4 linked regions of the Homo sapiens genome follow. The protein of the gene in region 1 purifies or fractionates together with the protein of each later gene. This does not show direct contact. Each region holds a gene or a part of one and is shown in the gene's direction. Other genes may lie near its edges.

The links.
Region 2: the proteins of TNFRSF13B (region 1) and RNF166 purify together in Homo sapiens (affinity purification with mass spectrometry; 2 studies listed by BioGRID and IntAct, with this or other methods). This does not show direct contact.
Region 3: the proteins of TNFRSF13B (region 1) and DCAF10 purify together in Homo sapiens (co-immunoprecipitation; 2 studies listed by BioGRID and IntAct, with this or other methods). This does not show direct contact.
Region 4: the proteins of TNFRSF13B (region 1) and XPO5 purify together in Homo sapiens (co-immunoprecipitation; 2 studies listed by BioGRID and IntAct, with this or other methods). This does not show direct contact.

Annotation. Positions count from the first base shown.
Region 1 is NC_000017.11:16,948,119-16,951,618, reverse strand, and holds part of TNFRSF13B (tumor necrosis factor receptor superfamily member 13B), read left to right. Parts: intron 1-2,635; coding exon 2,636-2,881; intron 2,882-3,500. UniProt on the Homo sapiens protein: Receptor for TNFSF13/APRIL and TNFSF13B/TALL1/BAFF/BLYS that binds both ligands with similar high affinity. Mediates calcineurin-dependent activation of NF-AT, as well as activation of NF-kappa-B and AP-1.
Region 2 is NC_000016.10:88,696,409-88,699,908, reverse strand, and holds the end of RNF166 (E3 ubiquitin-protein ligase RNF166), read left to right. Parts: exon of another isoform or gene 1-175; intron 176-176; coding exon 177-289; intron 290-823; coding exon 824-938; intron 939-1,299; coding exon 1,300-1,407; intron 1,408-1,793; coding exon of another isoform or gene 1,794-1,975; intron 1,976-2,275; coding exon 2,276-2,341; 3' UTR 2,342-3,408; downstream 3,409-3,500. UniProt on the Homo sapiens protein: E3 ubiquitin-protein ligase that promotes the ubiquitination of different substrates. In turn, participates in different biological processes including interferon production or autophagy.
Region 3 is NC_000009.12:37,838,797-37,842,296, forward strand, and holds part of DCAF10 (DDB1- and CUL4-associated factor 10), read left to right. Parts: intron 1-3,292; coding exon 3,293-3,490; intron 3,491-3,500. UniProt on the Homo sapiens protein: May function as a substrate receptor for CUL4-DDB1 E3 ubiquitin-protein ligase complex.
Region 4 is NC_000006.12:43,569,539-43,573,038, reverse strand, and holds part of XPO5 (exportin-5), read left to right. Parts: intron 1-460; coding exon 461-533; intron 534-2,044; coding exon 2,045-2,182; intron 2,183-2,354; coding exon 2,355-2,537; intron 2,538-3,500. UniProt on the Homo sapiens protein: Mediates the nuclear export of proteins bearing a double-stranded RNA binding domain (dsRBD) and double-stranded RNAs (cargos). XPO5 in the nucleus binds cooperatively to the RNA and to the GTPase Ran in its active GTP-bound form.

The DNA of each region.
Region 1 (3,500 bases):
CTGCACCCAGCCTGCCTTGTGTATTTTAAAGCACAGCCAAGATCTCATATAATTTTACCTGCAGATACTGGACCACGAAAACCTGTGAAACATAATCCAAATATCCTATCACTGCCAGCAATAATTTATTAACATCATCTAATACTCAGGCAATATCCAGTTTTCCCTGATTGTCTTGAAAATTATTCGTTGCTTGCTGTTCTTTTTCATAACCTGTTCTTTTCCTTGATAGAACTTACCACAATTTGCTGTTTTGTTCTTTCATGTGTATGTGTTTTATGTCTGACTCAACCACTAGACTGGGAGCTCCCTGGCAGGGGAACCATGTCTGACTTGAGCCTAGCACAGTGCCTGACACATAGTAAGTCCTTCATGAATACTTATTGCGGGGAACTCAGAGAGGCTGAGTGACTCACCCAAGATCACCCAGTTTAAAAGTGGAGATGTCACAGCGACATCCTGGTTTGAACCCAGGACTCCGACTCCTAAATCATGACCTGAACCACTACCCATTAATGAATTAGAACATTCATTGGTTCATCCCACAAACATAGATGGAGTGCTCCAGCCCCATGGAAATAGGAATCTGCCGTGGCCCTTCAAAGACAGTGTCATCTAATGGGAGAAATGACTATGTGTCAAGGTAGAAAGCCACAGTTGGGAGAGACCCCCTTCAGCTAAAGGGCTGGGGAGCAGGGAGGTGTCCCTAGAGGAAGCACCATCAGAGGCAGATTGTTAAGAGGTCACAGAATGCGGAAATCAGATGGGCACCTGGAAGAAAGGGCACTATGAGCAGAGGCTCAGAGGAGGGAAACACAGTGGGGAGGACTGAGTCCCAGGCGGGGGAGGGGAGGGGTGTGAGGTCAGGCAGGGAGGGGTGTGAGGTCAGGCAGGGAGGGTCAGTGGGCTGGGGCACTCAGGCACCACCTGCAACAGCACCACCTGCAACAGGGGAGGAGGTCACAGAAAGCCCCAAGGACACCAATGCTGGGCTAACCCTGTGTGATGCAGAGTGGAGGTGTCAGTTTCTGTGCGGTTCAGGGGCGCCCTGGGGATAGGGCAGGGCCAGAGCAGGGGAGGTCACTGGCCCTATGTGGGCCATCTGAGTTTTCCCTAAGGTCCCAATTCCGTGATCTTTTAGTTCCTTCCTTTACTCTGTCAAAGACACAAGAACGGATCTGTTTGCTTTGTGAAGAGGCTCAAATGAATATTCTACTTAAGCTTTCCATTACGTGAGCATTTAGTATGTGCCAGGCACTGTGCTGGGCCCTACAACTCTGCCAACAACCCTACGAAGAAGTCAGTACTGTTATTTTCCCTATGTTGGAAATGAGGAAACTGAGGCACGGAGAGGCTAAGACCACACTGCCTGCAAGTGGTACAGCCAGGGATGGCCCCAACTGAAATTTGGTTCTGAAATTTGGGTTCTTATCCACTATCCTGCACTGTCTCCAAAATGTGTCCTTAAAATATATGTGTGAGCCACATATATTTTATTTATACATATTTATTTATTTATTTATTCATATTTACGAAGTCAGGACATCTCAAAAGCCATACCTTACTCTAAATACAAAGGAAACTTGCCTTTTTCACGTAAAAACTTCCATGTAGAAATATTCGGAGGCTAGACCAGATGCGGTGGTTCATGCCACCTGTAATCCCAGCACTTTGGGAGGCCGAGGCAGGCAGATCACCTGAGGTCAGGAGTTCACGACCAGCCTGGCCAACACGGCGAAAGTCCATCTCTACTAAAAATACAAAAATTAGCCGGGTGTTGTGGTGGTCGCCTGTAATCCCAGCTACTCGGGAGGCTGAGGCAGGAGAATTGCTTGAACCTGGGAGGCAGAGGTTGCAGTGAGCCGAGATCGTGCCATTGCACTCCAGCCTGGGTGACAGGAGCGAAACTCCTTCTCAAAAAAAAAAAAAAAATTAGAAATATTCTGAGACTTTAGATAAGATAATTGATTGTTCCAAATAGGTTTCTTTATGCATTCAAAGTTGGGTCCACTGTGCTCTCTTAAGGCAAGTGTGATTTGGCTTTAGTTTCCTTGGCTTCTGTGCCTTGGCACTGATACTTGTGTAAGCTGCTGTAATTCTCATCTAGTATTAAGACAGAAGAAACACTATTCATGTGAACTTTTCCACCTTCCTTCCAGCCCCCTCCCCCAGCTTGTCAAAGAGGATTCTGGCTTTTCCCCTTCTTTCCTTATGCTGATTTGAAATATATTTCTCCTTGATGAGGCTTGAAAAATGCAAGTAAAAGTCTTATGTAACAATGTAATCCAGATCTAAATTTTAAATGATAACTGAAAATCTTCATACGTTTGGAAACTAAGAAATGCACTTGTAAATAACCCATAGGTCAAAGAAAAGATAATAATGAAAAATAAGTGCATTTTGATCTAGGTAGAGGAAAAATACTACACATCAAAATGCAATGCAGCTAAAATAGTACTTAGAGGACAATGCATAGTCTTCAATGTGTATATTGTAAAAGTACTTGGCTTACTCTGGAATTGCCTTCTGGAATTTTACTGTATTTTTTTTTTTAACTTTGATGTCCTTTGTGGTCAAACCCAGAGTTCCTGCTAGTCTGTGTCACCCAGCAGTATCATGAATTTCTCTCTCCCAGGGTCACTCAGCTGCCGCAAGGAGCAAGGCAAGTTCTATGACCATCTCCTGAGGGACTGCATCAGCTGTGCCTCCATCTGTGGACAGCACCCTAAGCAATGTGCATACTTCTGTGAGAACAAGCTCAGGAGCCCAGTGAACCTTCCACCAGAGCTCAGGAGACAGCGGAGTGGAGAAGTTGAAAACAATTCAGACAACTCGGGAAGGTACCAAGGATTGGAGCACAGAGGCTCAGAAGCAAGTCCAGGTAAGCCACCCAAGGCAAACCTGCATGGTGTCACGCAGGGTGAGAAAGCGTGGGAGGCCTGATGCCAGGCCTAGAACAGGAGAGTCCACAATGCATGAAGCCCAGAGTCCAAGCAAATGGCCAGAAGCCAGGGAGATCATCCCAGGATAAAAAAAACAATGTAGGCAACATTTCCAGAAGTCTGTGGACAAGAAGAAAGCAGGAGAAAGGACCTGCCGTGTGAGGAAGAGCCTTGCACTAGAGGCTGCCGAGGCTGTGCCAGTCATTGAAGCACAGGCACAAGTAAGCAGCAGACCCACCTGTGTGAGCACCTGAGCAGCAGCCACCACCTGCCCTCCACCAGTGCTGCAGACTCCATTTATTTCTATTATTATTTTATTTATAATTTCAACTTTTTTTTTTAGATCCGGGGGTACATGTGTAGGGTTTGTTACATGGGTATGTTGCTTGATGCTAAGGTTTGAGGTACAAATGGTCTTGTCACCCAGGTGGTGAGCATAGCACCCAATAGGTAGTTTTTCAGCCCTTGCCCTCTCTCTCTGCCTCCCCCTTCTAGTAGGCCCCAGTGTCTGTTGTTCCTGTCTTTATGTCCATCTGTATTCGACACTTAGCATTTCAC
Region 2 (3,500 bases), on another chromosome or scaffold:
TGGCTGCTCAGTGCCTGAGATTGTTTTAGCAGCAGAAGGGACCGGGTCCCCCTGCTGCTGGCAACACAGACGCTTGCTTACAGTTCTCTGGTCCTGGACACCTGAGGTCTCGGCCTCCCCAGGACGGCCCTTCCAGATTCTCAGGACCGCCTTGCCCTCCCTGCCCTGTCTCCTAGGTGACCCTGGCAAAGATGAGAGTGCACATTTCGTCCTGCCTGAAGGTCCAGGAGCAGATGGCCAACTGCCCCAAGTTCGTCCCCGTGGTGCCCACATCACAGCCTATCCCCAGGTAGGCACGCTGCCGGGCAAGGGAGAGGAACTGTCCTCGGCGGTTTCCTCGTTCTGGGAGCAAGCGCAGTGCCCCATCCCAGAGAGGCTGGGGGAGTCACCCGGGGCCGGGTCCACTCTGGGGAAGTGGACCTTCCTTGCCACCCTGCAGGAAGGCTCCTGTGCTGCCCTCCCTGGCATACCCACCAGGCCCCCTGGGGTAGGGACAGCTCAGCTGTGGGGAGCAGGAGGAGGGCGCAGGCCGGGCCCACACATCGCCTCCCAGCAGGTGGATGGGCCGAGAGACGGCTCCTGCCAGGGCAGCGCCAGCAGAGTCTCTGCCGTTTGGCTGGCCTAGTTGTGTGGGGTGGACGAGGGTCCTGGGTGTGTCCTCAGGAGGCCATGGCGTGCAGAGGCACGGGGGGCACCCAGCCACTGCCACGCTCTTGCAGCCTACAGAGGGCAGGCCTGGGGCCACGCCTGTGTTTGAGAGAAGCGGGGAGGCAGAGCCCCTAGACACCTAGCCGTGCCACTCACTCTACCCCCGCCCCGCCAGCAACATCCCCAACAGGTCCACCTTCGCCTGCCCGTACTGTGGTGCCCGCAACCTGGACCAGCAGGAGCTGGTGAAGCACTGTGTGGAAAGCCACCGCAGCGACCCCAACCGCGTGGTGAGCAGTGCCTGCCCCAAGCGACGCCTGCGCCAGGGGAGGCCTGTGGGGGACAGTACAAGGCCCAGGAGCCTGCTCGCGGCGAGTCCGGGGGTGCCCAGGCCACAAAGGCCTCCTGGGACCCAGGGTGGGAACTTGGCTGCCCGAGCAGCACCTGGCGGAAACCGGGGAGTGTCCATGAGTCCTTCAGGGTGACGCGCACTGAATAACTCGCTTGTCACCGGGACACGCGCCTCCAGGTCTGGGGTGCCTTCCCAGGCTGAGGCAGCACTGACGGGGCTCAGTGGAGGGCCCCCAGTCCTACTGCGGCTACCCCGCCTCTCCGCGGTCCGGCTCGGCTTGACCCCAGTGCCTGTTCCAGGTGTGCCCCATCTGCTCGGCAATGCCCTGGGGGGACCCCAGCTACAAGAGCGCCAACTTCCTGCAGCACCTGCTTCACCGACACAAGTTCTCCTACGACACCTTTGTGGTAGGCATCCCGCCAGCACCGTCCTCCCCCACGCCCTCCTCATCCACCCTCCTCCTGCTCGGGCCCCTCGCCAGCCTCAGGGTCCGCAGGGTTCAGAGGAAGCCAGAAACAGAAGCCTCGTTTCAGGTGGCCACATTCCCCCAGGTTCTGTGGGGGCTGCCTGCAGGTGGGGAGTGATGGCAGCTGAGTTTGAGTGGCCACTAGAGGGTGCCCAGGCCTCTCGGGGACATGGACCGCACAGGGCAGGTCCCTGCCTGCCCACCCCACAGAACCCCTCGAGGGTGAGCCAGGCTTCCTTCTGGAAGCTTTCTAGAGAGCGCGGGAAGGACTTTCATCAACATCGAACACTCCAGCCCTGTCTCCTTTTCCCACCCGCCGCGGGTCAGGCACACACCTGGCCCCCGGGCCTGCAGACCCTCGCACAAACTCCTCACTCCTGGTGCGGCCCCTCCCTGCGCCGCCCTGTTCATTCCTGGCCCTGGCTAACAGTCCTGGCGATGGCTGTCACTCCCTCTGCCAGTCGTCCGGGACCCACGCTCCGCCTGCCTCAGGATGGAAATTGTTAGAGGTCAGGGAGCCCTGGCCGGCCTGCTCACCTCGGAAACCCCGGGCTTAGAGTCCGACCTGAACCAGCAGCCATCCATTCCGAGTGCCCCCGTACCCAGCGGGTGATGGACACACCTTCACCTTCTCACCCCCCAGAGGACCGTGCAGGCCCCGAGCCTGTGGGGACAGTGGAGCTGGGTCCTTCCTGTGTCCTGCTGGAGGGAGGCAGGAAGGGTGGACACGCCTGTGTGGGTGATGGGCAGAGGGGACCTCTCCTTCCTGTCTCCCTCGAGCCCGGTGCATCTCTCCTTCCTGTCTCCAGGACTACAGTATTGACGAGGAGGCCGCCTTCCAGGCTGCTCTGGCCCTGTCTCTCTCTGAGAACTGAAGGGAAGCGCAGCCACCCGCCTGCGTCTGGGGTCAGGGATGTCCCCGCTCCTGTGTCGCACCTGGCACCTGCTCGGGAGCGCACCTCACCGGACTGAGCTCACAGGAGGAGCCTGCACCCGCGCAGAAGGGGAGCCGGGGCCGAGCCTCCGGGCCTGAATACGGGCCAGCCGCCGAGGCCGCCAGAGCAGGGCCGCCTGGTCCCACCGGCGTCGCTGGGTTCTTCGGTGCTTCTGGCCGAGCAGGCGGCCTACTTGGGCAGGGCTGGACGCTGGGACCTGGAGCTGCCGCCGTCTCTTCAAAGCCATGATACCCCCTCGTGGGAAGAAGGGACCGACGCGCGAGTCGCGCTCCGCAGTCGAGCCGGGAGGAACCCAGGCTGCTGCCCTGCCCAGCCCGACCCTGCCCCGGCCCCACTTCCACCTTGCGCATTTGGTACTGGCTTTTGTGATACTTAGGAACCCTGGCATCTTTTCTATATTATCCAGTGTGATAATCTTTTCACGTTTTATAGAGCAAAGACAGAGCAGTTACTCTTCATATTGCAATATCTGTGTTTGACTAGGAATAATAGTATTTTTATGGAACATTTACAAAATTATATTTTTTAAGAAAACAATCAAAACAAGCATTGGGGGATTGGGGCAAGGATGGAAGGAGCAGTGGGGCAGCTGCCAGAGCTCAGGCGAGCCATGGGGTCTGCTGTGGGGTCTGCCCTGGCCACCCACTGTGTGTCTGGGTCCTTGAGGTTTGTACGTTTCTCTTTGATGACCAGGAAGAAATCCCAGCACCCCAGCCACAGGCTGTGGCTGCTCCCAGCAGAGGCGGGGCCGGCAGAGAAGGGGCCTCCTCCACCCAGAGTCCTGGCCTTGGCCCGCTGTCACCTTCAAAGCTGACTGTGCCCCGCTGCGGGAGGGGACGGCACCCCAGTGGTGGCAGAGCTTGGGGGCCTGGGCAGGGGCCCGCTTGGCGGGCCGGGCAACACGTCAACATTCTTTTCTGTTCTTGGCATTAATTATTGCTGTCTTTTTTTTAAAAAAAAAAGTTTAAATAAAATGTCTCAGAGCATCTCTAGCAGCCTCGACTGGCTTTTGTGCTCCACGGTGTGGAATCGCCAGCTGCTGTCTGTGTTGGAGGTCGGCTGTGTCCTCCCCAGGCAG
Region 3 (3,500 bases), on another chromosome or scaffold:
ATGAGAATCACTTGAATGTAGGAGGTAGAGGTTGCAGTGAGCACCTGGGGGATAAAGCGTGACTCTGTCTCCAAAAAAAAAAAAATTAAAAAGAAAAAAGGTTTCAGTTCTTCATACAGTGAACACTATTCAGCCATTAAACATGATTTTGTTAATAAACCTTTAATAATGGCAATATGTTTTTGAGATAATATTAGGTTTAAAACAGAAATTAAGCTAAACATCAATAAAGTGGTTATTTTTGGTGATGGATTTTTTTTTTCTTTTTCTTTTTTTTGAGACGGAATCTTGCTCTGTGCCCCAGCTGGAGTGCAGTGGCACGATCTCAGCTCACTGCAACATCCGCCTCCCGGGTTCAAGCAATTCTCTGCCTCTGCCTCAGCCTCCGAGTAGCTGGGATTACAGGCGCCCGCCACCATGCCCAGCTAATTTTTTTTGTATTTTTAGTAGAGACAGGGTTTCACCATCTCGGCCAGGCTGGTCTTGAACTCCTGACCTTGTGATCCACCCGCCTCAGCCTCTCAAAGTGCTGGGATTACAGGCGTGAGCCACTGCGCCCAGCCGATTTTTTTTCATTAAAAATATTTTCAGTAGAAATGTTTTTTGTTATCGTTATTTTTAAAATAAGAGATGGGGTTTCGTCATGTTGCCCAGGCTGGTCTCAAACTCCTGAGCTCAAGTGATCCATCCATCTTGGCCTTCCAAAATGTTGGGATTATAGGTATGAGCTACCACGCTTGGCCAGGAAATGTATTTTTATAATTAAAAAATAGTTACTGGTAATCACCATAGAATAAATCCATAATGTATTCCCTAGTCATCTCTACTTTCCCACACACAGCACTCCTAACTGCTGCTTCTCAGAGGGCACCATCCGCTCACATGCCTGTGTATCTTTGCTTAGTAACCCTGACCACTTAGGGAGTTCCTGCTCATCTTTTATTCAGTTCAAATGATAACATCATGAAGTCTTTCCCAGCCACCCTCTTTGCTTATTCCACACAATTATTTCGTGTAATTATGTACTTACAGTGTCTTTTCTGCTAGGCAGTGAACTTCTCTTTCATTTATTTTGTAAGTATTTGTTGAGTGCATATGTGTCTGGCACCATGTGTATTGTATACTGCAGATCTAACCATGACCCTAGGCAGACAGGTTCCTTCTGTCTTCAGGGAGTTTACAGTAAAGTTGTTCCTTACAGTATAATATTAAGTATTATGATAGAAGCTCCCAGAATGCTTTGGGAGCTCAGAGAATTGGTAGGTCTACCAGGCTGGTTAAACAAGGAAGGCTTCCTGGAGGGCATAACAGCTGAATACAGTTATATGCCACATAACAACATTTCAGTGAGTGACACCATATACAACAGTGGTTCCAGAAGATTATAATGGAGCTGAAAAATTCCTATTGCCTAATACTTACTATGTTATACTTATTATTGTTATTTTAGAATGTACTCCTACTTAAAAAAAAATTAAACTGTAAAACAGCCTCAGGGAGGTTCTTCAGGAGGTATTCCAGGAGAAGCCATTGTTATCAGGAGATGACAGCTCTGTTCCTGTTATTGCCCCTGGAGGCCTTCCAGTGGGGCAAGATGTGGAGATGGAAGACAGTGATATTGATGATTTTTACCCTGTGTAGAACTAGGCTAATGTGTGTCTTTGTTTTTAACAAAAAAGTTTAAAAAGTAAACATTTTAATAGAAAAAAGTTAATAAAATAAGGCTATAAAGAAAGAAAATATTTTTGTACAGTTGTACAATGTGTTTGTGTTTAAGCTGTTATTACAAAAGAGTCAAAAGTTTAAAAAATTAAAAATTCATGAAGTAAAAAAAGTTATAGTAATCGAAGGTTAATTTATTACTGATGAAAAATTTTTAAATTAATTTAGTGTAGCCTAAGTGTACAGTCTTTATAATGTCTACAGTAATGGACAGTAATGCCCTAGGCCTTCACACTGACTCACCCCTCACTCACTGACTCACCCAGAGCAACTCCCACGCCTGCAAGCTCCATTCATGGTAAGTGCCCTATACAGGCGTAACATTTTAAATCTTTTATACAGTACTTTTACTGTATTTTTTCTATCTTTCAATATACAAATACTTACGATTGTGTTACAGTTGCCTACAGTATTTAGTATGGTAACATGCTGTGCACATTTGTAGCCTATGAGTGATAGGCTATATACCATATATACCATATAACCTCAGTGTGTACCATCTAGGTTTGTGTAAGTTCATTCTATGATGTTCACACAACAACAAAATCACCTAAGGACACATTTCTCAGAATGTATTCCATCATTAAGTGACACATGATGGTATTAAAAAGAAAGCAAGAATTAGCCAGATCCAGGGGCAGGAGGAAGGTTGTTTCACCTAGCAGAAACAACCTGTGTAAACGCCTGGTATTTGAAAACCGTGATCAATTTTAGGAAGGTCGTTATGGTGTTTGTGGATATTGAGGTTGATTTCTGACAATTATATGTAAATTTATCTTAGAAGAAGCACCAGAATTCATTTCTTCTGTAAGAGATTAGGATAACAGCATGTATTACAGAAAGCATCCTAATGTTAAATTAAGCAAAAATTCAAGTGTGAATAGTAGTTTATTTTTTAAGTATTTGTATTAAATATATTCTCACTAAGGATTGAGAAGTTAGTGTAAAATAATAAAAAGTCTGAATTATAGAGTATTTTAAGCCTATTTTGTAATTTTCTTGATTGGTCCTAATAAAATGTTGCTAAGAGATTATTTGGGAAATACCTTTCAGTTAAAAGATTTAAAATAATGGCAATTTTATAGCAATTTTTGTATGTAACTGTGTTCTAAATAGAAAAAGATGTTCCTTGTAGCAGAGCAAATATTTCTCATGATTTTGATTATGTGTAATGTGTCCCTCTCGGCAATCAAGTCTTCAAAACTTCCTCTATCGCCTATTAAATTCTCTCTCATCATTTTTGTTTCCTATAGAGATTCTGAAGTTCTTTTTTTCCCTTCTGTCACTGTTTTCCAAACACTTACCCCTATTTCCAATTTCAAATAAAAATCAGTAATTTAAAGCAAATGGATCCAATTGCAATATGACTGTCATTAAATCATAGTATCCTGGCTCTGTGATTATGCAAAGTATACTTTTTATAGTATATCAGTCATTGGGTTTACATAGTGAGTGTGTAGTCCTTTTTTTCTTTCTTTCTTGACTAGGTAATATAGTGACTGTTTCTCAAATCAATTTTCCTTTAAAAAGAGATTAAATGAACCAGGGTTTTGTTTTTCTGCTTTTATAGATTTCTTGATAACCGGCTGTTTGCTACCTGCTCTGATGACACTACAATAGCACTATGGGATCTGAGAAAATTGAACACCAAAGTATGCACTTTACATGGTCACACTAGCTGGGTGAAGAACATCGAATATGATACTAATACAAGACTCTTAGTAACATCAGGATTTGATGGAAATGTCATTATTTGGGACACTAACAGGTTTGTGAAT
Region 4 (3,500 bases), on another chromosome or scaffold:
TCCTAACTTGATTGTCCTACCCTCAACACCTATCAGAAGAGGTAGCCTTTAAGACTTAGCCATAGTTTTTCCAGAATTGTTTTGTAAGCCAGCACAGAAAATGACTGATGTCAAAACTGCATTTTCTGAAAAGCAAGTACATTGTTGCAGTTGACCTAGATGTATATTCACTTTTGGCCCATCAATAAAATCATGAGGCAAAGCTGACGTGTGGTACAAATCTTGTGCGGATTCCAGTTAATGGACCACTGCATATATAAAACCTTTTCCCAAGAATTTTTGTGTTAGTATTTTGGTTAAATGTAGATCATTTTTGCCCATTCATTGACAGGTACAAAATCAAAAGTATAATTTCTTAATGAAATCTCCAGTGTAATCAAATGTAGAAATCCATGCTATTCTCTTGTAAAGACAAGACTTCTAAAGTGGTTCTATTGACTTTATGCATTTTGGTGGTCAGGTTTCGGTGGAACGGCATGTCTCGATTGGAGAAGGTGTATCTGAAGAACAGTGTCATGGAGCTGATTGCAAATGTAAGGAATGGGTGGTTGGGAGACATGTTTCCAAGGTAGTTTAGGCAAAGCGTGACTTCTTCAATAGGGAGTTTGTGTAAAAATTCACTGCTTCTAAATAGGTCAGACAGCACAAGAAATCATAATTTAGGCCAGGCACAGTGACTCACACCTGTAATTCTAGCGCTTTGGGAAGCCAAGGTAAGAGGATCACCTGCATCTAAGAATTCGAGAGCAGCTTGGGCAATGCAGTGAGACCCCATCTCTACCAAAAATGCAAAAATTAGCTGAGCGTGGTGGCGCATGCCTGTGGCCCAGCTACTCAGGAGGCTGAGGTGGGAGGATTTTCTGAGCCCAGGAGGTCCAGGCTGCAGTGAGCTGTGATGGTGCCATGGCACTCCAGCCTGTGCAACAGAGCAAGACCCTATCTCAAAAACAAAACAAAACAAAAGCAGAAAGCATAATTCAGCATATGTCTCTTACTAGGTTTAATTAATCATGCTTATGTATTGACTTCTATTTTTTAAATTATAAAGACAGGGCAGAGGGGATTAAATATTTTCAACAAATCAATAAGATTCTTAGATCTAAATTAGATTGAAACACTATTTTCTTTTATTCCAAACAACTACTATGTGATACTAATGATGAAAAACATGCAGAATTTTAAGTATGCAGAATGAATTTGTTTCAAGTATTAGAATATGACTTTTTTTTTTTTTTGAGACAGAGTCTCTGTTGCTCCGGCTGGATTGCATTAGCATGATCATAGCTCACTGCAGCCTCGAACTCCTGGGCTCAAGTGATCTTCTCGCCTTAGCCTCCCAAGTAGCTGGGATTATAGGCATGTGGTACCATGCCCAGCTAATTTTGTTTTTGGTTTTTAGAGAGACAGGGTCTCACTGTGTTTCCCAGGCTAGTCTGGTCTCAAACCCCTGGCCTCAAGCAATCCTCCCACCTTGGCTTTCCAAAATGCTGAGATTACAGGTGTGATGACTGGATGACTGTCTCTTTAAACACAAAACAGAATATGACTTTAAACATGTTCAAAATTGTAGCCTTTTTTCTTTCTTGGTTTTTTTTAAATAACAGACATGAGAGATGGGATCTTCTAATACTTCTGCGTCTTCTAGTGTTAGAACTATTGGTAAAATATTCATTTGCCCCTTCATACCCTTCCATTTTACCAGCTACTCACTATACTCCTTATTTCTATACTCTTCCTCCCTGGCCTTCTGCAAACTGAAACAATCAATATGAGAATCTTTTCATTTTGTAAAGAATAATGATGTCATCCTAGCTCTCGATATGACAGCCTTTTAGGTGATGCAACCCTCACTTAAGCTTTAAGCGGAAGAGTGATTAGCAAGAATGCAGGACAAGTGACTCAGGCTGAAGAACAGGTTCATTTGTTCTGTTTGGTTTAAAAGTAGGCCTGCTGATAAATTTTTTACAACTCTACAGCCCAGCTTTTTTCTGGAAGTCTGGAATCCAGTCTTGCATATCTCTTAATATCTCTTGTTCTTTTTCAGGGAACATTGAACATTTTGGAAGAGGAGAACCATATTAAAGATGCTCTGTCTCGAATTGTAGTGGAAATGATCAAGCGAGAGTGGCCACAGCATTGGCCTGACATGCTAATAGAATTGGACACTCTTTCCAAACAAGGGGTATGAAACACAGCTATATCAGTTTGGTATACTTTTCCTTGGAACAAACTTCAGGGTTTGTTGTTTGATTTTGTTTGTGGGTTTTTTTTTTTGGCAACAGAAAATAGCCTTTGGATATACATAAAATGAAAAGATATTTTAGTTTTTAACTAGCTTATTTCTATTGGTGTAGGAAACACAGACAGAATTGGTGATGTTTATCCTTTTGCGACTGGCAGAGGATGTAGTGACTTTTCAGACACTTCCCCCTCAAAGAAGAAGGGACATCCAGCAAACATTAACCCAGAACATGGAAAGGATCTTCAGTTTTCTGCTTAACACACTTCAAGAAAATGTAAACAAGTATCAGCAAGTGGTAAGGGATACCCCTACCTATAACATTTCTATTTTCCAATATGAGTGTTTTTGATTAATCTTACAGTAAGGAACTAGGGTGTCTAGGTCAGCAAAATGAAATCCTATTTTATAAGCAAAAAAATAAAAAACTAGGAAATGACAGAAAAACTGGAGCTCATTTTCTTTCTTTTTTTTTTTTTTTTTTTTTTGAGACGGAGGCTCGCTCTGTCACCTAGGCTGGAGTGCAGTGGTGTGATCCCGGCTCACTGCAACCTCTGCCTCCCAGGTTCAAGCGATTCTCCTGCCTCAACCTCCCAAGTAGCTGGGACTACAGGCGCCCGCCACCAGGCCCGGCTGATTTTTTGTATTTCTAGTAGAGACGGGGTTTCACTATGTTAGCCAGGAAGGTCTTGATCTCCTGACCTCATGATCCGCCCGCCTCCCAAAGTGCTGGGATTATAGGTGTGAGCCACGGCACCTGGCCTTTTTTAAAAAAAAAAAAAAAAAAAAAAAAAAAGATAGGGATCTCGGCTTACTGCAGCCTCCACCTCCTGGGATTACAGGCATGTGCCACCACACCTGGCTAATTTTTGTATTTTTAGTAGAGATGGAGTTTCGCTGTGTTAGCAAGGCTAGTCTCAAACTCCTGACCTCAGGTGGTCTACCCACCTTGCTCTCCCAAAGTGCTGAGATTATAGGTGTGAGCCACCGAGCCCAGCCCTAGGTGTTATTCTTAATTTTATTTTCAGAAGTTCTTTAGGAAAATACTAATTTTTTTTTTTTTTTTGGAGAGGGAGTCTCACTCTGTCACCCATGCTGGAGTGCAGTGGCACAATCTCGGCTCACTGCAACCTCCGCCTCCTGGGTTCAAGCGATTCTCCTGCCTCAGCCTCCCGGGTAGCTGAGATTACCGGTGCCTGCCACCATGCCCGTCTAATTTTTGTATTTTAGTAGAGATGGTGTTTCACCATGTTGGTCAGGC